3 separate regions of the Homo sapiens genome follow, and regions 1 and 3 are each linked to region 2. Evidence: fine-mapped expression QTL. A gene starts in region 2. Each other region holds a variant in brackets. All regions are shown on one strand. Distances are from middle to middle.

Region 1 (8,005 bases), 24 kb before region 2:
CCGCTCAGCTCCAGGTGCCCCCACAGGCTCATGCACACACAAACAGGGCTGCCTGCCACCTGCGAGGAACCTGCTCTCTCCAGGGACTCAGAAACAGGCGCCAGGCCAGAGACACACCACAGCCAGAAAGGCAGGTATCAGGAGCCAGCGGGTGCTTGGTGCCTGGAGGCCACACCCCAGACACCCACAGGCAGGGCCGGCTCACCCGCCGGAAGACAGGCCCAGGAGGCCCTCTGCAGGGTCCCCAGGATGACCAGGGCCCTGGTGGCATGAGGCTGGTGGAGGGTGTTGAAGCCAGGAACCCTCTCGATGGAGTATGGACCCCATCCTGGCTGGAGGAGAGGTTGTCAGGGCGGGGCTGGCCCTTGGGAGGCACCACAACCCCTGTGCAGGGTACCCCAACCGGGGAGAAGCCACCAGGCCACGCTGGAGTGGGAGCCAGGACCTCAGCGCCAGGTCCCCACCGCGTCTGCCGTGCCCACCCCTAGAGGGTGCTGAATCCTGGCCCCTCCCAGCTCTGGGTGTGTGGTGGGGAGGAGCTGCTTCTCTCCGTCCTCACCCGGCCTTGCCCTCGGCCAGCAAAGACCGCAGAGGAGAGTGAGACCCTTGGGAGCTCCCTGGGCTCAGGGGTTCTGAGTGCCTGTGCTGGGACCTTGGACGGCCAAGACACCGCTTGACTTCCACCTTCTGTCCTCTGGCGCCCGCCTGCACCTGGTCCTCTGCCTGCCCACGCGGCCAGCTAGAAAGCGCGCGCCCTCCAGTGGGAAGGAGAGCAAGGAGTAAAACGTCCCGCCAGGGAGTGGGGAGTGTCAGGAAATTAGGAGGAAGTGTCGGGGCTGCGGCTTGCCGGGATGTAGGAGCACAGGCCCTGGGGCAGAGGAGGGGCGGGGGGAGCCGTGAGAGGCCCGGAGGGAGCAGGGGAGGTGGAGAGGAGCTTTCCCCAGTGGAGCTGGCAGGAAGAGTCCCAGGTGCAAGGAGCGCATTTTAGAATTCCAGGACTCGGGAGGAAACCTGCAGGATGAGGGCTCCCCTTGGGGGCGGCCTGCATTTCTCAGCGGGAAGGTGGGTGTGGGTGCCCCTCACATCACCTGGCGTTTATTTTTGCATGTGTGAAATATAACAACAATTTCCTAGGGGAAAACACCCTAGGGTGCACAAAAGTTGTAAAAATGGGAACATATGGTCCGAAACTCACTGCTGAATAATGTGCTGTCATGAAATTTACTTCAAAAACCCCCTCACGGAGTACAATCTTGGGTAGATGAAGGAGAAAAAAAGTAAAAATGAATTTAAAAATCTCTTAAAGCTTCTGTTTTTTGTTTTTTATTTTTGAGACAGATCTGGCTCTGCTGCCCAGGCCGGAGAACAGCTCACTGCAGCTGGAGCCGTTCTCCCACCTCAGCCTCCGGCACGTGCCACCACGCCCAGCTAATTCTTTTCTTTTCCTTTTTTTTTTTTTTTTTTTTTGAGACAGGGGTCTCACTCTGTTGCCCAGACTAGAGTGTAGTGGCACAATCTCAGCTCACTGCAACCTCCACCTCCTGGGTTGAAACGATTCTCCTGCCTCAGCCTCCCAAGTAGCTGAGATTACAGGCGCCCGCCACCACGCCCGGCTAATTTTTGTATTTTAGTAGAGACGGGGTTTCACCATATTGGCCAGGCTGCTCTCAAACTCCTGACCTCAGGTGATCCGCCCGCCTCTACCTCCCAAACTGTTGGGATTACAGGCGTCAGCCACTGCGCCTTGCGTAATTCTTTTCATTTTTTGTAGCAATGGGGGTCTCACTGTGTTGCCCAGGCTGGTCTTGAACTCCTGGGCTCAAGTGATCCTCCTGCCTCTGCTTCCCACAGTGCTGGGATTACAGGTGTGAGCCACTGCGCCTGGCCAGCTTCTTTAGATCAAGCTGTAAATAACTTCAAATAGTAAATTAGTAGAGCAGACACGACTGACTAAAATTATTAGCAATGAAAGCACAAAGGAGTAAGCAGGGGAGGCCACCCTGAGCACGTCTGGACGGCTCGCGTGGGGAGTCCACGCTCAGAGCACCCCACAGGTGTGCAGGAACCGGCATGATCCACAGTGATCGCCTTTGGTGGCAAAACTTATTTCTTTTCTGCAGTACTCACAATTCTCCATCATAACAATGTGTCGTTTTACAAGCAGGAATAAATGAAAACAATGGCTGTTCAAAGCTTGCTGGAGAGAGGCGGCGGCAAAGCTCTGCTGCTCCCCGTGTTTCTGGAATCTGTTGACAATTGTATCTGCGCTTCTCACAGATTCTGAGAAGGACACGTATGTTTAACAAATATATATAACTTCCTCAGAGAGCCACTGAAGGCCAGGTGCGGTGGCTCATGCCTGTAAACCCAGCACTTTGAGAGGCCGAGGTGGGCGGATCACCTGAGCTCAGGAGTTCACGACCAGCCTGGGCAACACAGCCAAATCCCGTCTCTACAAAAAATACAAAACTTGGCCCGGCATGGTGCCCGTAGTCCCCTCTACTTGGGAGGCTGAGGTGGGAGGATCGCTTGGGCCTGGGAGGTGGAGGCTGCAGTGAGTCGAGATTGCACCCCTGTACTCCAGCCTGGGCCACAGAGTGAGACCCTGAAATAAAGAAAAGCTGTGGACGTGGCTGAATCGTGTGCACCGCTGACCCCCAGCATGTGGGCCTCACCCACCATCCACGCGACGCCCTCGCCAGGAAAAACAGAGCCATGTGACCGGGGAGGGTTGATGGGGGTGTCCAGAGGCCAGAGTGCCCTGGCAGGGTGGCCCCCACCCCATCTGTCCCTGGAGGTCTTTGTCTCCTTCTGTGCTGAACTCCACCCTCCAACAGCTCCCCGTGGCTGCCCAAGCAGGGGTGGCGGGGTGTCAAGGAGGGTGGGCGGCGGGACCGCGGGGCAGAGGGGCTGTGCATCCTGGGTAATCCCACCCTCGCCCTGGGTGGCCACCAAGCGGTGCCGGCAGCTGGACCTGGGTGCGGAGTGTGGAGCCGAGTTCACCTGCCTTTTTGTGGCTCCCAGAGGAACACGCAGAGACCCAACTGAGGCCAGCCTAACTGGGGCTGCTGAGGGTCAGCCCCGGCATCGGCTCGGGGCACCAAGGACCCAAGGAGACTGAGCAGGGACTGCAGCCGCTCAGCGGGGGTTGGAGGTGGCAGAGCCCTCCTCAGCCTGGGGGAGCTCAGCCCTGTCCTCAGTGAGAAAGACCCCCAGCCCCTGGCAGCGGACGGCAGTGACCACACAAGGGCTTGAGACCTGGGACTGGGACCTGGGCCGAGTGTGGGGTCCAGACCCAGGTGGTGGAGAAAGGGGTAGGCTCTGCAAGTGTGTGTGTGTGCATGTAGTGTGCTTTGTATGAGTGTGGGGTGTGTGTGTGTAGTACTAAACACATCATGTGACGTGTATATGTGTGTGGTGTGTGTCTACATGTGGTGTGGTGTGTGGGGTATGTATATATGTGGTGTGTACATGTGTGGTGTGTACAGGTGGGATGTGTATATATATGTGGTGTGCACATGTGTGGTGTGTGGGGTGTGTATTTGTGGTGTGTATGTGTGTGGTGTGTAGGTGTGTGGTGTGTGGGGTGTGTATATATATGTGTAGTGTGTACATGTGTGGTGTGTGTGTTGGGTGGCACGTGTGCACATGAGACACGGGGTCCAGCCCGGTGGCCCCAGCTCCTGGCCAGGCAATCCCAGGGGACAAAGGCTCCTGGACAAAATGGCTTTGGCCCCTTCCGCCCGCCGTGGCCTTGGAGGGCAGAGGAAAGTTCTCATGGCCCAGCGAGTGCTCCTGATATGTGGGTGTGCACAGGAGAAGAGAAAGAAAATATCAAGAAGCCGTGATTATCTCCTCTGAGGGAGTCACAGACACGCAGCCTTGAAACGCCAGCCCTGAGCTTAGGGCAGGGCTCTCCCAGGGCCGGGGATTAACTCTTTGCTTCCCTCTCCCTCCGGGGCTGGGGGCTGCCTATGGTGGCTCAGCTGAGCCCCTGGCCCACCAGCCCCTTGAGACCATCCCAGACCCTGCCAGGAGCCAGGCGGTGATCAGCCTCTGGGCACAGGCCCAGCCCTCCATCTCCCCTACAGCCGGCCTGGAGCACAGATTCCAGGGCCTGGCTCCCAAGGGGACATCCCATGGGGTCCCAGAGCCTCAGGAGCCTCAGGGCCCGGTCACTCAGCTGCACTGCCCTCCACACATGATCTGGGGCAGCCCCAGCACGCCTCAGGTCCTCAGTCTGACCTGGATCCCGGGAGCCCCCTGAAGACAGACGAACCGACCTGGGTCCTGGTCACTGCTCCAAGCTCATGCCCTCTCCATAAACTCGGTGTGGGGCCACCAGACGTAGCAAGTAAAAATTCAGGACACACAATTAATTCAAATTTCAGTGAAACAATGAAAACTTACAGTGTGAATGCATCCTAAATATTTCATGGGACATATTTATCCTAAGAAATGGTCCGTGTTCTTCCGAGACGCACATCTGACCCTGGGCCCCGTGTTATTCTGACCAGGGCATCCCAGGGTCAGCCGACCACCGCAGAGCGGGCACCCCCACGGCTCCGCCGCACAGCCCCAAGTTTTATTTCTATTTTATTTATTTTTTGCGGAATAAACAGTCTCAAGTGCACAAGCCCAGGGCTCTGGCAAATGCGTCCAGTGCGTAACTACCTCATCCTCAGGCCACGGAACATTCTACCGGGGGGGCCCTGTCACCCCACGTGGTTTGGCCTGCTCTGGGGAGGCCCGAGACCCTGTGTGTCTGCTTCTTTCTTGTACAGTCATCATGATTTTTTATCCATTTCTGTGTGGATGAAGGAGACTTGGGGACTTGGAGTGGTTCCTGTTTGAAGACCTTCTCCTTCTCCTTCTCCTTCTCTTCTTCTTCTTTT[T/C]TTTTTTATATGGAGTTTCACTCTTGTTACCCAGACTGGAGTGCAATGGCGCAATCCCGGCTCACCGCAACCTCTGTCTCCCGGTTTCAAGCGATTCTCCTGCCCCAGCCTCCCGAGTAGCTGGGATTACAGGTGCCCACTACCACGCCTGGCTAATTTTGTATTTTTAGTAGAGACGGGGTTTCTCCATGTTGGTCAGGCTGTCAGGCTGGTCTCGAACTCCCGACCTCAGGTGATCTGCCTGCCTCAGACTCCCAAAGTGCTGGGATTACAGGCGTGAGCCACCATGCCCAGCCTTCTTTTTTTTTTTTTGAGACAGGGCCTCGCTCTGTCACCCAGGCTGGAGTGCCTTGGACCATCACAGCTCACTGCAGCCTCGAACTCCTGGGTCAGATGATCCTCCCGCCTCAGAGTCTCGCATAGTTGGGACCACAGGTGCATCCACCACACACAACTAGTTTATTTTTTAATTTTTTGTAGAGACAAGGTCTCACCATGTTTCCCAGGCTGGTCTCAAACTCCTGGGCTCAATCAATCCTCCTGCCTCAGGCTCCCAAAGTGTTGGGATTACAGGCGTGAGCCACCCACCGCACCCGTCCCAGAATGTTCTTATTGAAGTCTTTCTGGGGACGGATGATTTCATTCCTCTTTGTAAATGCTTAGGAGTGGAATTGCCAGGTCACACGGTGGACACAGGTTTCATTTGTAAGACTCTGTCCATCTCCGAGGGAACTCTATTTCCAGCACCTCCTTTGACAGGTGGGGAAACTGAGTCCAGGAGCGGTCAGCTTTGCTCTAGGCCTCGGCTGCTTCTCTGGGGTAGCCATTGACATCGCCCGGCCTGCAACTCAGGGGTCGGTGGGACCAGCACATAACCTGAGGGAAGTGCTGACTCCCGGGACACTGGACCTATGGGGTGGGGGCTGCAGGGCAGGGTCAGGAGCAGAGTGGGACAGGGTGCAGGGCAGGACAGGGTGCAGAGAGGGATGGGGTACAGGGCAGGACGGGGTGCAGGGCAGGACGGGGTGCAGGGAGAGCTGGGGTGCAGGGAGGGATAGGGTGCAGGGCGGGCCGGGGTGCAGGGTGGGCTGGGGTGCAGGGTGGGGCGGGGTGCAGGGCGGGCTGGGGTGCAGGGAGGGATGGGGTGCAGGGCGGGCCGGGGTGCAGAGCGGGGCACGGTGGGGTGCAGGGTGGGATAGGGCAAGATGAGGTGTGGGGCAGGACGGGCTGCTGGGCAGGGTTGGGCCCAGCCTCAGGGTGTGGCCAGTGTAGACTGAGGTCTCCACATGCGATGCAGGAGGAGCAGGCCACCCTCTTTGGGAACTTCAGCAGGGAGAGTCCACCAAGGGTTAACAGTGGGCTGCCTTTGGCCAGAGACAGCTGCAGGGACACCCCCGCCACCCGCCTCCACCGGGCCCCACAAGGAATGGAATGGAGGGAGTGGAGCCGCCTGAAGGCCACCCGTTATCACCGCCAGCTCCGTGCCAAGCACGTCTGCCAGACCCACAGAGATCCTTTCTGTTTCTGGTGGAGGGAGGGAGGGTGGCCGGTGTGTTTGGTGTGGAGGGGCTGCTATTGGGGTCTGAGGCACCCAGGGAGTGTCTGGACCCACAGCAGGGCCCCTGCCCAGGTGGTCATCCTGACCCCTGCTGATGGGGGAAGGACCAGGACACAGTCCCCGGCTGGTGCTGGCTGGACTGCTGAGGCCTTCTCGGGGTTGGCGGTGCAGCAGGAGGCCCCGGGATGGTGGGAAGGATGCCCGGGTGGGGCTCCTCTGCTTTCAGGCCCTTCCACCCCTACTCTGCAAATCTCCGGCAGGAGGTCCCCAGGATGGGTGGGAGCCAGGCTGTGCGGCCTCCAGTGGGTGAGGTGGGTCCCTGTCCTCCTGCTCACAGGCTGGGTTTCATTCAAAGCACTGGGGAGCCACAGGGAGCTCGGGACGGGGGCAGGTGTGTGGGGTGTGCCTGTCGGGAAGCCTGGGGTCCACCTGCGGGTGGTCCCTCGGCCCTCAGGGGCTGGGGTTTGCTCTGAGTCCCTCCCGTCACCTCACAGAATCCCCTGAGGGGTCTCAGGACCTCCAGGGCTCGTAGCCAGGATGGCCAGGCGACACTGACACCTGGTCCCTCGGCTGCCGCCCCTCTGACCAGTTCCACCCGGCAGCCCGAGCCCAAGACAGCACAAGACAGAGAGACAGAGACAGCGGGGAAGCAGGGAGACAGAGACAGAGAGACACACACAGAGAGACAGAGACAGCAGGGAGGCTCTGGGCTATTCTAGGGCATCGCCCAGTCCCTCACTTGGTTTCCCTAACTTTTTTCTGGATTATAAACCCACACCTGCTGATCAGGAAGACTTTCATCATCCACACGGGTTTAAAGGGGCTTCCAGGGACCGGAGGGTCGGGCTGCGCACAGGTGTGAGGACGGCCACCCTCTGCCCACTGCCTGGCCCACAGCCTTCTGTGGCTCCTTGAGGCCTAGGGGGAAACAGAGGGGGGTCTGGGCCCCCACCCAGTTGTCACCCCAGCTCCCAGGCTCCAGCCGATGGGGCCAGCAGGAAGACGGGCCCTGGGCTCCTCCACCTGCAGAGGCAGCAGAGGGTGGCCGTCCCCACACCTGTGCGCAGCCCGACCCTCCGGTCCCTGGAAGCCCCTTTAAACCCGTGTGGATGATGAAAGTCTTCCTGATCAGCAGGTGTGGGTTTATAATCCAGAAAAAAGTTAGGGAAACCAAGTGAGGGACTGGGCGATGCCCTAGAATAGCCCAGAGCCTCCCTGCTGTCTCTGTCTCTCTGTGTGTGTCTCTCTGTCTCTGTCTCCCTGCTTCCCCGCTGTCTCTGTCTCTCTGTATGTGTCTCTCTGTGTGTGTCTGTCTGTCTCCCTGCTCTTTCTCTCTGTATGTGTCTCTCTGTCTCTGCCTCTCTGTCTCCCCACTGTCTCTGTGTCTCTGTCTCTATCTCCCTACTCTCTGTCTCCCCACTGTCTCTGTCTCTTTGTTTGTCTCTTTGTCTCTGTGTCTTTGTCTCTCGGTCTCTGTCTCCCCACTGTGTCTCTCTATCTCTGTCCGTGTCTCTCTCTCTTTGTCTCTCTGTGTCTGTCTCTCTCTCTGTCT
Region 2 (8,005 bases):
GTAATCCCAGCACTTCGGGAGGCCAAGGTGGTCGGGTCACCTGAGATTGGGAGTTCGAGACCAGCCTGACCAGCATGGTGAAACCCTGTCTCTACTAAAATACAAAATTAGCCAGGCGTGGTGATACATGCCTGTAATCCCAGCTATTCGGGAGGCTGAGACAGGAGAATCGCTTGAATCCAGGAGGCGGAGGTTGTGGTGAGCCAAGATCGCACCATTGCACTCCAGCCTGGGCAACAAGAGCCAGACTCCATCTAAAAAAAAAAAGGTAACGCTAAACCAACTGTGCTCAGACACTGGCCCCATTAAACAGCACACAGGAGGCTAATCCTGCCATGCCTACAGAGCGCCTTACTTATTTTGGAGACAGGCTTTCACTGTTGCCCAGGCCGGAGCGCCTCATGTGATCACAGCTCACTGCAGCCTCGATCTCCAGGGCCCAAGTGATCCTCCTGCCTGAGCCTCCAGTGAAGCTGGGACTGCAGGTGCGTGCCACCATGTCCAGTTAATTTTTGTGTATTTTGTAGAGATGGGATTTTATCATGTTGGCCAGGCTGGTCTCAAACTCCTGAGCTCAAGTAATTCTCCTGCCTCAGCCTCCCAAAGTGCTGGTATTACAGGCATGAGCCACCGCATCTGGCCCCTAGATTGATTTAAACAGCCAAAATACACTCTCTGCACCAGATTAGAAAGCATTAGAGGTCCGGGGCCCATGTATTCAGATTCATTATTCTGATACCGGGCTCAGGAGGATCATAGCACGTGGCCCCTGCCCCACTACCTGAGTAGGAAGGCAGATTAATTCTGCTTGGTGCCCCTAAATTGCTCCAGCCCAGAGATGGGTCCTTCCTCCAGGGCCGAGTGTCCAGTAACCCGAGTGATAGAGCGGCACAGCCCCCACCCTTAGGGTGCTGGTGTGTTTGCTGGGATGTGGCTGTCTGGACCTGGGCTTGCTGTCAGCAGTAACCTTCTGGAGCGACAGGGTCATGTAGGGTGCACCTAAGCTCTGTTTCAGACCCCACTGTGGCCTCAGCCTGTGACTCTGACCTTTGGGGGCTGTGTATGTGAGGGGGAATGTTTGCAAGCTTGGCTCATCCAACAGGCTTTTAGCAGCTTGAAGATTCTCAGGAAACACAGCAGGGTGGAGCTGATGTGAGACGGGGTCTCACCATGTTGCCCATGCTGGTTTGGAATGCCTGAGCTCAAAGTGATCTTTCCGCCCAGGCCTCCCAAAGTGTTGATATTATAGGCGTGAGCCACCTAGCCTGGCCTAGGGTGTCTATTTTTTTTTTTTTTTTTTGAGACGGAGTCTCGCTCTGTCACCCAGGCTGGAGTGCAGTGCACAACCTCCACTTCCCAGGTTCAAGCGATTCTCCTGCCTCCTCCTGCCTCAGCCTCCCGAGTAGCTGGGATTACAGGCTCACGCCACCATGCCTAATTTTTGCATTTTTAGTAGAGATGGGGTTTTACCATGTTGGTTAGGCTGGTCTCAAACTCCTGACCTCGTTTGTGATCTGCCCGCCTCTGGCCTCCCAAAGACCTGGGATTACAGGCGTGAGCCACCGCGTCTGCCTTCAGAGTGTTTTTTTGTTTTTTGAGACAGAGTCTCTGTTGCCCAGGCTGGTGTGCAGTGGCGCAATCTTGGCTCACTGCAACCTCCGCCTCCTGGGTTCAGCACTTCTCCTGCCTCAGCCTCCCGAGTAACTGGGACTACAGGCACCCGCCACCACACCCGGCTAATTTTTGTATTTTTAGTAGAGATGGGGTTTCACCATGTTGCCCAGGCTGGTCTCGAACTCCTGAGCGAGCTCAGGCAATCCACCCACCTCAGCCTCCCAAAGTGTTAGGATTACAGGCGTGAGCCACAGCGTCCGGCGCCTCAGTTTCTTAAATGAGGTGAGGCTTGGAGTCAGTTCTTGCAGGCGTGGTCTCACAGGCCTCCCCCTCAGACCTGGGCAAGCCGTTCATTTCCCCAGGAGCAGCCTTTAGCACTAGCGGGAACTATTCTTCTGGATACCCAGAAAAGCATGTGCAGGAGGGGCTGCAACCATACCACCCACAGGGAACCCCTCAGGACTGCTGGGTGCTGGGCCAGCGGGGACCCCCCCAGCCCCATTTAGCTGCATGGCCCTGGGCAAACCACTTGTCTTTCTGGATGGGCCCACTAATTTGCAGGCATTGTTATGCTAGCGGAACTCCTCCAGGCTACATTTGTATCTCCGGCTCCAGCCAATCCCTCTTCTGACTCAGGGGTCCAGGGTGGGGCCCTCTATTGCTACTTGGAAAATGCTTCCTGGGCAGGTTTGCTTCGGTTTTCTCAAAATTGCAAGGACCCTGCCCTCAGCCTCTGCCCAAGGATCACACCCCAGACGCTCAGCGCCTCCCTAGGCCCACCCAGACCAGAGCCACCTCCCTGGAGACAAAACCAGCATCCTCCCTGGAGCTCTGTGGCTTCTCTTCCCCTTTTGTTTCCCAGGACCTGGGAGAGTTCAGCCGGGTGGTCCAAGGCTGCCCGAGGCCATGGGAGGACCTTCGGAACCCCCCATGCTACTCCTGGGTCAAAGGGGGTTCTCTGCTGGGCAGTGTGGAGGCGACCACTCTAACCCCTACCCCTGCATTGAGTGAAGAGGTGGGGTCAGCCTCAGGTTCTCTCCGGACCCCCAGCGGAGCCCACCCGTTCACTTCGTTTTACTCAGTGGGGCTCCCCGGGAGGGGCAGGGAGAGTCTGGTGTGGCCTTGAGAACCGAGTGTGTGACCAGGACCCGGCAGCAGGCACCACGCCCACCACCCTCGAGCCTGGCCTCCTCGGCCTACATTTGGGTGCGCCCCACGGAGCTCTGTCTACACCTTAGGAGCGAGTGGGAGCCCCTCTCTGTGATGAGAGCGTCGCAACCCTGCCCTGACCTTTGCAGCCCCAGCACTGCAGGGCGCCACTCCCTCCCCGTCTCCAGACCCGCACTCCTACACAGCCCGGACTCTAGGAAAACAATCCTTTTATTGAACATACCCAAGAACGGGGGTGGGAAGGCAGCAGGAGGGGTCAGGGCGGAGGGGCCTCGGCCTGGAGAGGGGAGACTGGCCGCAGCCGGGACTCACTGGCACGGGTCCCTGAGGACCCCTCGCTCGGCGGCCGCGCTGCCCAGAATGAAGCCCACGGCCAGGGACACTGTCTGGTCGAAGGCGCCGCGCAGCTGCTCCACGTGCTGGTTCAAGGTCAGCAGCTGGTCGCGCAGCGGGCCCAGGATGTTCGCGATGTCGCCCAGGTGCCCCAGGGTCTGCAGCAGGGCGGTGTTCAGCGACGGGGGCGCGGCCGGAGGGGGCGCGCAGTCCTCGGGGCGGCCGGGCGGCGAGTCGGGGTCTTCGCGGGCCGGGGGTGGCGGCGGGGACCCGGGGCCGCGGACGGGCGCGCGGTCCTCGGGGATGCAGGTGGCGAGGGCGGTCGGGGCGGGAGCTGGCGGGGAGCCGGGGGCGGGGGAGGCGTCCGCAGACTTCGGTGGGGACGGGCTGAAGCGGAGCGTCCAGGTGGGGTCCGCGTCGCGGTCGCGGGCGGTGGGCAGCGGGGTGGCGTCTGGGAACGCGGAGCAGGCGGTCGGGCGGATTTTCGCGGGGCGCGCCCGCCCCTCCCCCGCAGCCCTCGGCAGCCCCCGGTTCCTCCGCAGTCCTCGGCCCCACCTGGCCCCCCAGTCCCCCGCCTACCTGGTTCGCTGGGAGCCGGCGCGTGCGCGTTGGGGACCGGGCGGCGGGCGCGCTGGGGGCGCCCGGACCCCGGGGAGCGGCGGCGAGGCCGTTTGCGCCCGTTGTCGCCCAGCAGCCCCATGAGCTTCCGGATCTGCTCGTCGAAGGGCCCGGGCGGCTGGCCGTGCGCCTCGCGAAACTTGTCTTTAAGGAACTTGTAGCGGCGGCGGCACTGCGCGGGGGTGCGGCGCACCTGCTGCTGGGCCAGCGCGGCCGACACGCGGCGGTAGGTGGGCAGGGCCTGGCGGCGGTCCAGGAGCAGCGCGCGCCACACGGCCGGTTGCAGCAGCGTCCCCAGCAGCAGCTCCGTCTCCCGGGCGCTCCAGGGCGTGCGCTGCGCCGAGCCCGGGGACACCGGCAACCCGAGTTCCCCCAGCGCGCTGGGCGAGGCGGGCCTCCGGGGCGGGGTCCCCGGGGCGTCTCCGGGTGTCCGCGGCTCGGGGTCGGGGCTGGCGGGCGAGGGCGGCGCGGGGGGCGCGAGCGGGGGCGGCCTGCGGGGCCGGAGCAGCATCCCGGGGCTGGGGCGCGGCGCGCGAGGATGGGGAGAGGGCCAGACGCCGCCCGGGCCGCCCACACGCGTTCTGAGCATCCCGCGCCGCCGTCCCTCCGTCCCAGCCGGGTCTACGCGACCCTCCCACCATCCCCGCCCCGCCCCGCGCGCCCCGCCCCGCCCGCCGGGTCCTAAGGGGTCGGTCCTGGCGCTGCGGCCGGGAAGACGCAGAGCAAAGACTGGCTTCGGTTGGAAACGGAGGGTCCTCAGGAGTTCTGTTCTTAGACCCGTTCAACGGAGGTGCCGCGATGCCTAAGCCCCGGCGGCTCCGCTCGTTTTTAGCCTGTGCCGAGCCTACCCCCGCCCCCGTCGAGGTGTGTGCGGAGCCCCTCCCGCTCCGGAAGGCGCTGGCGCCCCCTTGTCCGGCCCCCAGTGCTGCCCCCGCCCCCGCCGCCCCCGCCCGGGCTCAGCACCTGCACGCGAGGGGTCCGGAGGACCGACCCGGGTCCCAGGGGGAGTCGCCAGGCCAGGGGATGGGTCCGAGGAGAAGCCACGCCAGCCGCGGGAATGGGTGTCGGAATTCACGCGCTCGCAGAAGTAGCTTTTAAAATCTGAACTTCTTCCATCTGCAGCGCGTCTGCAGCCAGCATCCCTGGGAGGAGGAAATTCTCTTCCTATTAAATGCTCTTCCTCCTTGCCGCACGGCGCCGAGTCCTTCTGTCTCCTGGGTCTCCTCTGGGCCGTGGCAGCTTCTCGCGTCCTCGACACGGTTGAGGACGGGCCAGGTGTTTTGTTGAATGTTCCTCGACTTGGGTTTGCCTGGTGTCTTCCTGTGATCCGACTAGGGTGGTGGGTTTTAGGAAGGAAGGCGCAGGGGTGGAGTCTCGCCCCTCCTGTCTTGTGGCTCAGCACCGGTGAGGTCTGCTCCGTGCTGGGGTGCGGACTGTCTGCCACTCTTGCAGTCTTCAGGTATCGCCTTTCCATCCCTGCTCTGGTCACTGGAATCCGGCCCCTCAGCCCATCCCCAACTCATGGGGAGAGTAATTAGGCCCCACCTCCTGGAGGGGTGTCTGTATTTTCTGGGATTCTTCTGTAAGGTTTGTCTCTCTGCCTGTTGATTTATTTACTCAGTCATTTATTTCTACAGTGTGGGCTCGTGTATATTTATTTTATCCTTTAGGTCATAACCCGATGCTGTTATTATTTATTTGTTTTAAAAGTTCTGTTTGTTTTTATTATTTTTTACAAATGGGGTCTCTTTCTGTCACTCAGGCTGGAGTGCAGTGGCCTGATCACAGCTCACTGTAGCCTTGAACTCTTGGGCCCAAGTGATCCTCCAGCCTCAGCTTCCTTGGTAGCTGGGACTACATGTGTGCACCACCACACGCACCTAGTTTTTTTTTTTTTTTTTTACTTTTTGTAGGGACAGGGTCTTGCTATGTTGCCTAGGCTCGTCTTGAACTCCTGGGCTCAAGTGATCCTCCTGCCTGGGCCTCCCAATGTGCTGAGATTACAGGAGTGAGCCCCTGTGCCGGGCTTTTATTTGTATTTTTGCGCATATCGTTCCTGCTTTGGCCATTGAAAGTCTTCTCACCTCCTCCTCTCTTCCTTGTCCTTTTGAAACCCCCTCCCAGCTCCCTGGCAATACAGGATGCTCCTGCCTCATCTGGTCCTTTGCCGACCCTGGTCCTAGAATCAGCTTTTCAGACACTTCTCAAGAAATCTGTGGTTCCTGGCCAGGCACTCATACACGGGGCTCACACCTGTATTCCTAGCACTTTGGGAGGCTGAGGTGGGCAGATCTCCTGAGGCCAGGAGTTTGAGACTGACCTGGGCAATATAGTGAGACCCCCATCTCTGCAAAAAAATAAAAAATAGCCGAGTGTAGTAGCAGGTGCCTGTAGTTCCAGCTACTTGGGAGGCTGAGGCGGGAGGATGTCCTTTTGCTCAGGAGGTTAAGCCTGCAGTGTACCGTGATGACCTGACTGCACTCCTGCCTGGGTGACAGGGCAAGACTCTGTCTTAAAAAGAAAAGGGGGGCGTGCAGGCGTGGTGGCTGTAATCCCAGCACTTTGGGAGGCTGAGGCAGGCGGATCACCTGAGGTCAGGAGTCTGAGACCAGCCTGGCCAACATGGTGAAACCCCATCTCTACTAAAAATACAAAAATTAGCGAGGCGTTGGATGTGCACCTGTAATCCCAGCTTCTAGGGAGGCTGAGGCAGGAGAATTGCTTGAACCTGGGAGGTGGATCTAAAAAAAAAAAAAAGGCTGGGCGCGTGGCTCAAGCCTGTTGACACCCAGCACTTTGGGGGGCCGAGGCGGGCGGATCACGAGGTCAGGAGATTGAGACCATCCTGGCTAACACAGTGAAACCCGTCTCTACTAAAAATACAAAAAATTAGCTGGGTGTCGTGGCATGTGTCTGTAGTCCCAGCTACTCAGGAGGCTGAGGCAGGAGAATCGCTTGAACCCAAGAGGTGGAGGTTGCAGTGAGCCAAGATCGCACCACTGCATTCCAGCCTAGGTGACGGAGTGAGACTCTGTCTCAAAAAAAAAAAAAAGATTTTTAATAACTGAGGGTTGGGGGTGCTGGGGGCATCTGATGGGTGGAGATCAGAGATGATGGTGCACAGGACGCCAGCGCAGACTGTCTAGCCCACAGTGGCACTGCAGTGCACAGCACAGCCTGCCTTGAACCCGTCTGGGACAGAGCCGGGGAGTGGATGGCGGCGTGGGGGACAGAGCCGGGGAGTGGATGGCGGCGTGGGGGACAGAGCCGGGGAGTGGATGGCGGCGTGGGGGACAGAGCCGGGGAGTGGATGGCGCCGAGAAGCGAGGCTCATGAGGTTGCTGGCTGTCAGCTCTCTAAGAGAAAAGTCCTGTGCTCAGCGGAGCTGAATTTATTGGAGCCACTGCAGTGAGGGGTCCGGCCTGCATGGCGTGGGGGCGAGGACGCACACATGACCAGGACCAGGGCCCCCTGTCTCGGGCAGCTCCTGTCCAGCACAATTGGACTCCACCATCTTGTCTTCTCGGCTTCTCCTGGGCCTCCCTCCAGGCGGATAACCGCACCGTTCATCACGGGAACTTCCCGAAAGACCCATCAGCTCTTTTCCCAAAAGCATCCACAGTTTACAACCCCAAAACCATTGGAAGCCCTGGCTGTGAGCCCCTCCCTGAGTGGTGTCCACCAGTCTTACCCTGTGACAACCGTGAGAGTGTCCTTTCCCGGGCCACAAGCCCCACCTGCAGGAGCTCCCCGTCCTGGCCTCCTGCTCCACTGTGGTCAGAGTTACGGCGAGCTTGCACCGTGATGACGGGGGACCCAGCTCTGTCTTGCCCACAGGGCTGCCAGGTGGGAACTGGCTGGGTTGGGCAGAGTTTAGCGCAGATTGACCCAAGAACAGCCGTGGGTCTGTGCAAATAGCCTGTAAGAACTGATGGACAGACGCCCGTCCTGATCTTGGATGAAGACACTGCACATCCAGCATGAGGGACGTCCTTTTTGTCAATGGAGGGCGAGCCTGGATGTGCGCACACAGGAGCGTGGTTACGGGAGTCCGTTCTTTTAGGCTGTTTGCAGTCACAACCAGAAGCAAGTGTTTCCTGCCCCAGCCGGTGCGTTTGCTTGTTCCCACGGCCTGGGAGTGCTGGCGGTAGCTTTCCTCCTGGCGGGGCCTGAGTTGTGACACACGTCTGGCAGGCCCGGGCCTTTCTCTGCGGCATCAGAGGGCGTCGCTGTGGACCGGCAGATTCGTTTTCAGTCCTGGGTTGAGCAC
Region 3 (8,005 bases), 34 kb after region 2:
GCCGACGGGATCCCTGGGTCATTCACTGCTTGGGGTCCCTGGGGGGACTCGGGAGCAGCCTCTCAGTGCTGCGGGGCCGAGGAGGCCGGGGCTGGGGTGGGTGCCCTTGCTCACAGCTGTGTTTACTCCACACGCACGCGGAGGAGCTGCCCGGGCTGCTGGCACCGCGTGGAGCTGTGAGCAAGGCAATGTGGGGTGGCCGCCGCCCCACCCAACACAGCTCAGTGCTGGGCCCTGTGGGGTCTGGGGCCACCTGTTTGGGAGTCTCTTCACCTCCTTGGGGCCCTCACACTGGTCCCTCTGAGCAGGGAGCCCTGTGGCCATCACTGCCCAGGCCCCCTGCAGCCTCCCGGAGAGCCCCTGCCTCATATTCTCTGAAAGCCCTTTCGTCCTCCAGAAGAAACCCAGGTCCGATGGGAAAGCTGTGAGTAGGCGTCAGGCCCAAGGAGGGGCTGCTGGGACCCCCACCCATCTCCACCAAGGGTAGCCCCTCTGGAGACAGCAGCGAGATGGAAGCGGAGGGTTGGGAGGGGAAGGCTGGGCCCGGGTCAGGCAGCAGAGCCCAGGCACAGTGGGCATCAGGGAGGGGCGGGAATGCAGGGCCGAACTGGGCACCCACCTTGGGGAGGGTGACGCCTGCCCGTTGACCACCTTAAAGAGGTTCTGCAGCAACTTCTCATCCCAGTACAGGTCACAGAACTTCTCGGAAATGGCGCCACAGAAAGTGGCAAAGGTGAGATCTTTCAAGGCGAAGATGTACTCCCCTGGTTTTGCAAAACGATGGAGACAAGTGAGATGGTGGCAGGGCTGCTCATCTGGTTCCCTTGTGGCTGATGAAACGGACAAGGCTGATCTCGGCTGGGGGGCTGGGGGAAGGGCGTGGGGCGGCCCCGAGTCCCCTGTGGGGCTCTCCCTGGCCCGGGCCTCCTCTGGGGCGTCTGCGGCCCCCACGTACCCATGATCAGAGCCTCCAGCCCATTGTCCAGGTAGCCATCGAAGGCAAATTCCTCCTGGATGAGGCGCGTGGCCTCCTGCAGCGACGGGCAGGCCGTCCTCCCTGGGAGTGGCGAGGCATCCACGCAGGGCAGACAGAGCCTCCGGTCTGCGGGCCGCGGCCTCTCTGGGACACTGTCTGGACTCTGGTCATCACGTTCCCCGGCAGGGGTGGCCCCGGGGCCCTCTGGCTCCTGGCCCGGGCGCTCGGTGGCCTTGCTTCGTGGGGGCTTGGGCGGGTGGCGTGGGCCGTGGTGGGCCGTGGTGGGCCCCAGGGCGTCGGGCCTGAGGCCCCCGGAAGCAACTCCAGGTGGGATCGGCTCAGCCGGCCCTTGCTCTACGGGCAGCGCAGATGCCTTCGTGGGCGGGGCGGGGACTGGAGAGCCGGGAGCTGCCGATGAGGCCCCCTCTGGCTGGTTTGCTGGGGCCTGGGGTGGAGGGCAGGGGCGGCCCTGGGCTGAGTCACGCTGCACTGACGCCCCAAGAGGCTCTGGGGCTGCTCCCTGTGGCCCCGGACCAGGCACCGGCCCGTCAGGCGTCTTCAGGCTGGGGGACCCAGCGTGGGCCTCCAGGGAGAGCTTCTCCTCACCTTCTCCCTCCCTCTGGCCGCCCCTCTCCTCGGACTCCTCCTGGGCCAAGGCAGGCTGGTCCCTACGGGAGGAGCAGAGCTCAGGAGGGGCTGCCTGCGCCCGGGACCCAGCAGCTCCGGGGTGTGGGGACGATGCTCACCTGGCCACACTTGCGTTCTGCGCGAGGACAATGGGCTTGAAGTGCGTGGCCTCGGAGGTGAACGCTGCAGGCAGCTGGGTGGCTTCTTCACCGCAGGGGTGCTGGCCGGGCACGGGCCCTGGCACAGCCACAAGCCCGGTGTCGCTGTTCACCGGCAGGAAGCCTGGGGAGCCAGGGGGCTGAGGGTGTGGGCGGGCGGAGTGGCCCCAGCACGTGCCGCACCACCGGCTCATCCCACCCAGTGCTCATCCCACCCAGTGCGTGGTGCCGCGTCCCCTCCCGCATGGCCCTGGGGGCTTCCTCTGTGCTGGGCCCTGGAATGGGAGGGTGGGTGAGACTGGTGCTTGGGGGAGGGCCAGCAGGCGGGGACGGGCCAGCAAGACCAGGCCCCACCAGAAGCCTTGGAGGGGCCTGCTGAGCAGGGCTCAGTACGGGGGTGGGGTGGGCTCTGTGTGGACTCTGGGGGTCTCCAGATGTGGGCTTGGGAGGGCCAGCTGCTGGGAGATGGGAGTGAGAACCTGGAGCTGGGGCCTGAGCGACTGGGAGTTTTGGGAGATGGGGGCTGGCAGGGGCAGGCAGGCTGGGCTGCATGGGCCACGTTGGCCGAGCTCTGGACTTGCTTCCCGGGTTTCCGAGAGGTGCCCGGCTGTGTCTGTCCATGCAGAGGTGGGGGCAGCTGTGGTGTCAGGTGCAGGAGCTGGTGGGGCAGCAGGGGCTGGTCAGGTCCCCACCTGGGCTGGGCTCTGGGGCTGGTGCCACACTGGGCTTCAGTTCAACCACTGAGAAGGCGTTTTGGAGGCTGATGGTCTCTTCCTCCTGGTACACCTGGGGAGGAGGTGACAGCCCTGGGCCAGGTGACCACGGAGCTCCGCCAGCGCCGGCAACACCCACAGGGCGTCCCCCACCACCCGCCGGTGCCGTGGAGCTTCCTGCTGGGGAGGAGCCGGGCATGGCGGCCACACGGCCCAAGCTCTGCAGCGGCTCTGCCTGGAGAGGGAGCCGTTGGGGCTCCTTTGCCTCCCAAGCCAACCAGGTTTCCGTGGGTTCCAGGGAGTGGGAGACGCCAGCACCACCCGAGACTCAGGGCCCACACTCCCAAAGCTCTCTGCGCCCGGGGTGGGTGCTGGGCCGCCGTCCTTGGGACCCTGCCCTGATCCTGATCTGGGTCCCTGGGGGCCACTGTGGGGCCTTTAGATGGGACTCGAGTGTCCCCCTGCACCCCCAGATGCACCCACCCACAGCTCGGTGGTCAACAGAGACCGGGGTGTGGGGCTGCCGGGAGCGGCCAGGCAAGGGCAAGTGCGTCCAGGAGGGAGGAAGCTAAGCGCGGCGGAGGAGGCGGCGGCCTGGCTGTTCTAGCCCACCTGGCAGATGGAAGCTCTGAGGTGGGCAAGGATTTTCCGGCTGTCCATGCCTCGCTGGAGGAGGTAGCTGCCGCACACCTGGAGGGAGGAGACAGTTCACACGTCCCGACAGGCCTCAGCCACGGCTGCACCGTCCCCGTGTCACTGGGTCCCCATCTGAAAAAGCTCAGGGCTGCCAGGAGGGTTTCCTGTTTGTTCTCACCGACACCCAACTACAGGCCCCGGACAAGCCTTTCTTAGAGCATTTCCTGAAAAGGGCTCACAGTCGGCCACTGTCCCCCAGGCTCCCTGGGAGGGCAGAATCCCAAACCCAGCGTTGGCCACAGACCTGGTAGCCTCGTCGCCTGGACACTGGCAGCCCTTGGTCACGTTCGCCTGAGCCCCACGCTCCCTGCCCCCGGCCACTCCTGTCCTCCCTTTATAAGCTCAGGCCTTGTGCAC[A/G]TGGGAACTGAGCTCAGCTTCCCCAGCTCTCAGTAGTTACTGAATAAAATCTGCTTTCACTGCTTGGCAGACGCCCAGCCGTGTCTAGATCTCATCCTCCTGCAGCAGAGGAGGCCTGAGAGGCCCACAGGGTCTGAGCAACCCGCCCAAGACCACAGAGCAGTCGAGGCGGAGACGGCTGGACCCAGGTCCCCAACCCCATGGCCGTCTCCGCTCCCCCAGACACGGCTCCTCCCCAGGAGGTCCTCCTGATCACCCACACCCAGCTCGGCTCCTCCCCAGGAGGTCCTCCTGATCACTGACACATGAGAGTTTGGCTCCTGCCCCACCTGCTGGTCCACCCGCTGGTCCCCATGCCGGGTGCGGGTGCAGGTCCCAGCAGGAGTACGTTAGAACCCAGCCCCAAAGCTTGAGTCCAGCAGGGAGACCAGGCAGGGAGGGGCGGGGCTGGTGGGATCCTCAGAGGAGGTGGGGGTTCGGGGTGGGGGGTGAGGTGTGGAGGCCTCTCTCTGCTCCCCTCCAGCAGGGCCTAAGAGCAGGGGTCTGCACGTGCCCACAGGACACCCCTTGCCCCCGCCCTGGCCTCTTGGACAAGCTGGAGAGAGCGGGCTCCGCAGGAGGAACGGCCATGGTGGGGAGCAGCAGAGACCCCCATGCTGTCCACCCACATGGACGTGGCCATGACGCGAAACCCACTCCCTTCCCCATGCGACGGCCAGGCCGACGTCTAGAAACAGGGACCTAGAAACAGACCTGGTGGCCTCATCACCTGGACACTGGCAGCCCGTGCTCCTCCACCCCCAGCTCAGCGAGGGCGGCCACTGCCCACAGTCCTTGGACCCTGGGCTGGGGCCATGACTGTGGTGTGGTTACCTTGATGGCCTCAGCCGCGGACGGCCGCTCCGGGGCACTGCGCCTGGCCATGTCCAGGAGGAGGGTCTTGAGCCTGCGTGGCAGGGCCAGCTTGTGGTTGCGGGGGACGCTGAACTTGGCTGCGGTCCACAGAACGGCGGCCACACAGTACACAGAGGCCTGGGCGGGTGGGGAGAGAATAGTGTCTACCGCAGGGCTGTGGGCTGCTGTGCCCAGCAGACCTGCCCACCTCAGGCACCCTGAGGGGCACCCAGGCACTGCCCCCACAGAGGGGCTCTCCTCAAGACCCCTCCTCAGCATCTATCAGGCCCCACCCTGGACCCCTGCATCCGCCTCCAGGTCGTGGTCCAGGAACCTGCAGGTCGAACTCTCCCCCATGGTTCTGTCCGCGTTTTAAACACCAGAGGGTTGGAAGCCTCAACTGGACTTTCCCACCTTCCACTCTCCTCACGAAGGCAGCAGCTCGAGGGTTTGAGGAGAACTGGCCAGCATAGCCCCCACCTCACGGACCCGGGAGCCCCCCGACTGGTGCCTGCTCCCGGAAGCCCCCCGACTGGTGCCGTGCTGCTACATGGCTAACAACTGGCTCTCCGAGCGAACACACCGCCTGTGTGCAAACTGAGTTCATCCGGCACGTTGCTGATGTAAGGGATGCACAGCACACCATTTGATGCACGTTTTGTAAGTTCCACAGAGCCAGTCAATTCTCACTGAAGGCTTTCATTGATAAAAATCAATGAAACCCATGTTCATCCACAGTCCACCACAATACACGAGTGCTGCTGACATGAGTGTTGGTTGATGTTTTCATTCATTTCAGTAAATGAGATGGAAGTGAAGCCGGACAGACCCATGCTGGAATTCGGGGCACCCCTCTGAGCGACGTCTTTGCTGAATCAGATGGTCGCGGTTGATATCGTAAGACCATGTCCTCCACCTTTTGGGCTATTCTCAAGGGAGCGGCCACAGACATGACACACTTTTAAGTTTAATCACATCATCCACGTGTTCTCCATCACTTCAGTAAGTCCAGAGAGTCAACAGAACAAGACATTTGTAGCGTTTGCTGCTTTCCCTGGTGTAAGTACTCCCACGTGGCTGACTTCTGGCTACCAATGCAGTGCCCTTGAGTGTGGAGCTGGGAAGAGGCAGCTCCCCTTTACAGAGTCTCCCCCATCCAGGCACAGCAGACGCAGACAGCCCCACGAGCATAGAACAGCCAACTAGAGTCAGATAAGTAGGAAATCACCCATTTTGAGCACTTGTTACACTTTTAAAAAATTAACCTTTTATTTTGTGATAATTGTACATAGTTTTAATAAATAATAGAGCTCATGTACTTTGTACCCAGTTTCCACAACAGTAGCAGCTTGCAAAATACTGATACTGATATAGTCCAGTATCTCAGCCAGCACATCGCCATTGGCACAAAAATCCTGGTTCGCCATATGTTGCATTTTCATTTTCACTCAGTTCTATATGTTTTTAAAATTTCCTTGAAATTTTCTCTTTGACACATAGAGTATTTAGAATGTGTTGTTTCGTTTCCAAGTGTTTGGAAAATTTCCCTTTTATTTTTGTTACTGTGGTCAGAGAACACATTTGTATGACTTAAATTCTTTTAAATTTGTTGAGGTTTGCGTTATGGCTCAGGATTTGGTCTAGCTTGGTGTATAGTCAGTGGGGCAACTGAGAAGAATGTGGATTCTGCTGTTGTTGGGTGGAGTGTCCTTTAAATGTTGATCCAGCCGTGTTGATTGACAGTGTTGTTGAGTTCCTTCATATTTTTACTGGTTTACAGTCTGATTGTTCTATCAAGTGTTCAGAGAGGGGAAACTGGCATCTCCAACTATAATTGTGGATTCATCTGTGTCTCTATTAATTCTATCAGTTTTGCTTCACATATTCTGCAGCTCTGTTATTTGGTGCATATATGTTTAGGATTGCTATGTCTTCTGGGCGGACTGACCCTTTATTGTTATAGAATGTCCCTCTTTATCTCTGGTAATTTTCTTTGCTCTGAAGTACACTTAACCTGATATTAATGCAGTCACTTCTGCTTTCTTTTTATCATTTTCATAATGTATCTTTTTCAACTCTTTTAACTTTCAACCTACTTATATTGTTTTATTTGAAGTGAGTTTCTGGTAGACAGTACATGGTTAGGTCATGTTTCTAAACATTACTCTGTCAATCTTCTTCCTTTCTTCTTCTCTTCCTCCTTCCTTCTCCTTTTTCCTTCTTCTTGTTCTTCTTCCTTCCTTCTTTCTTCCTTCTTCCTCCTTTATTTATTTAAGAGACAGGGTCTCGCTCTTGTCGCCCTGGCTGGAGTGCAATGGCTGTATCTGGGCTCACTGCAGCCTCCACCTCCCAGATTCCAGTGATTCTTCTGCCTCAGCCTCCCAAGTAGCTGGGATTACAGGCACCCACCACCATGCCTGGCAAATTTTTGTATTTTTAGTAGATACAGGGTTTCGTCATCTTGGCCAGGCTGGTCTCAAACTCCTGACCTCAGGTGATCCACCTGCCTCAGCCTCCCAAAGTGTTGGGATTACAGGCCTGAGCCACTGCACCTAGCCTGTTTCCTTAATTTCTGAAGGATATTTTTGCTGGAAATAGGTTTCTGGGTTGAAAGTTCTTTCAGAACTTAAAAAAATGCTATGCACTTCCTCTACAGTTACTGATGAGAAATCTGATCATCTGAACTGTTTTCCCCCCCCATATGTGTATATATGTAAGCTGCTGTTTCTCTCTCTTTTTGTTTTTTATTTTTATTTTTATTTTTTCGGAGAGGGGAGGGTTAGTATTCAGAGGTTTGACTATGATGTGTCCTGGTGTGGATTTCTTTGCATTGATCATGTTTGGGGTTTTCTCACCTTCTGAAATCTGTAGGCTTATGTGTCTTGCCAAAATTTGGAAGTTTTCAGCCATTATTTCTTTGAGTACTTTTTATGCACCACCCTCCTTCTCTTCTCTTTCCAGGATTTTGATGACATGGATATTAGATCTTTTATTATAGTCCCACAAGCTTCTCAGGCTCTGTTCAGTTCTTTTGGTCTATTTTCTCTTTGTTGTCCAAACTGTGTAATTTCTATTGTCTCCATTTCACCAATTCTTTCCTCTGCCCTCTCTATTCTGCTATTAAGCCCATTCATTGAGTTTTTTTAAAAAATCAGCTCTAAAATTTCCATTAGCTTTTTCTTTTTCTTTTCTATTCCTTGGTTGAAACTTTGTATTTCTTTGCTGAAACTTTTTCATTTGTTTCAAGCGTGTTTGCAATTGCCCAATGACGCATTTTTATGATGGTTGCTTTAAAAATTTTAAAGTCACTTTTAAAATTTCTGTCATCTCCAGGTTGGTATCATTGGTTGCCTGTTTTCATTCAGTTTGACATCTTCCTGATTCTTGGTATCATGAGTCCTTCCCCATTGCTTGATTTTGTCAGCTCTGTCAAAGATCAGATGATTGTAGGCGTGCAGCCTTATTTCTGGGCTCTCTATTCTCTTCCATTGGTCTATGTGTTTTTGTACCAGTGCCATGCTGTTTGGGTTACTGTGGCCTTGTAGTATAGTTTGAAGTTGGGTAACGTGATGCCTCTGGCTTTG

The links. PIP is the estimated chance that this variant, and not a neighbour inherited with it, causes the effect.
Region 1: its variant is fine-mapped to the expression of UTF1 in whole blood (TOPMed, PIP 0.96).
Region 3: its variant is fine-mapped to the expression of UTF1 in blood mononuclear cells (TOPMed, PIP 0.92).

Annotation. Positions count from the first base shown.
Region 1 is chr10:133,250,442-133,258,446 of GRCh38, reverse strand. No RefSeq gene overlaps it. Among named protein-coding and RNA genes, the nearest start is that of MIR202HG, 6.6 kb to the right of the region's middle. RefSeq lists an enhancer at 110-409. The variant T/C (reference allele first, on the strand shown) is at 4,896.
Region 2 is chr10:133,226,530-133,234,534 of GRCh38, reverse strand. UTF1 (undifferentiated embryonic cell transcription factor 1) reads right to left here and starts at 4,318. Exons shown (of 2, transcript NM_003577.3): 1 at 3,697-4,318; 2 at 2,977-3,568. The coding sequence starts at 4,246. The coding sequence ends at 3,093. RefSeq lists enhancers at 1,937-2,736, 3,537-4,336.
Region 3 is chr10:133,192,217-133,200,221 of GRCh38, reverse strand. KNDC1 (kinase non-catalytic C-lobe domain containing 1) reads right to left here. Exons shown (of 30, transcript NM_152643.8): 10 at 4,401-4,559; 11 at 3,087-3,164; 12 at 2,454-2,547; 13 at 1,723-1,885; 14 at 956-1,644; 15 at 620-764. It overlaps LOC105378574 (a long non-coding RNA gene), which reads left to right and starts at 3,886. Exons shown (of 2, transcript XR_946511.3): 1 at 3,886-5,081; 2 at 5,221-5,735. LOC105378573 (a long non-coding RNA gene) reads left to right here. Exons shown (of 5, transcript XR_007062351.1): 5 at 2,948-3,026. RefSeq lists an enhancer at 1-619. The variant A/G (reference allele first, on the strand shown) is at 3,528.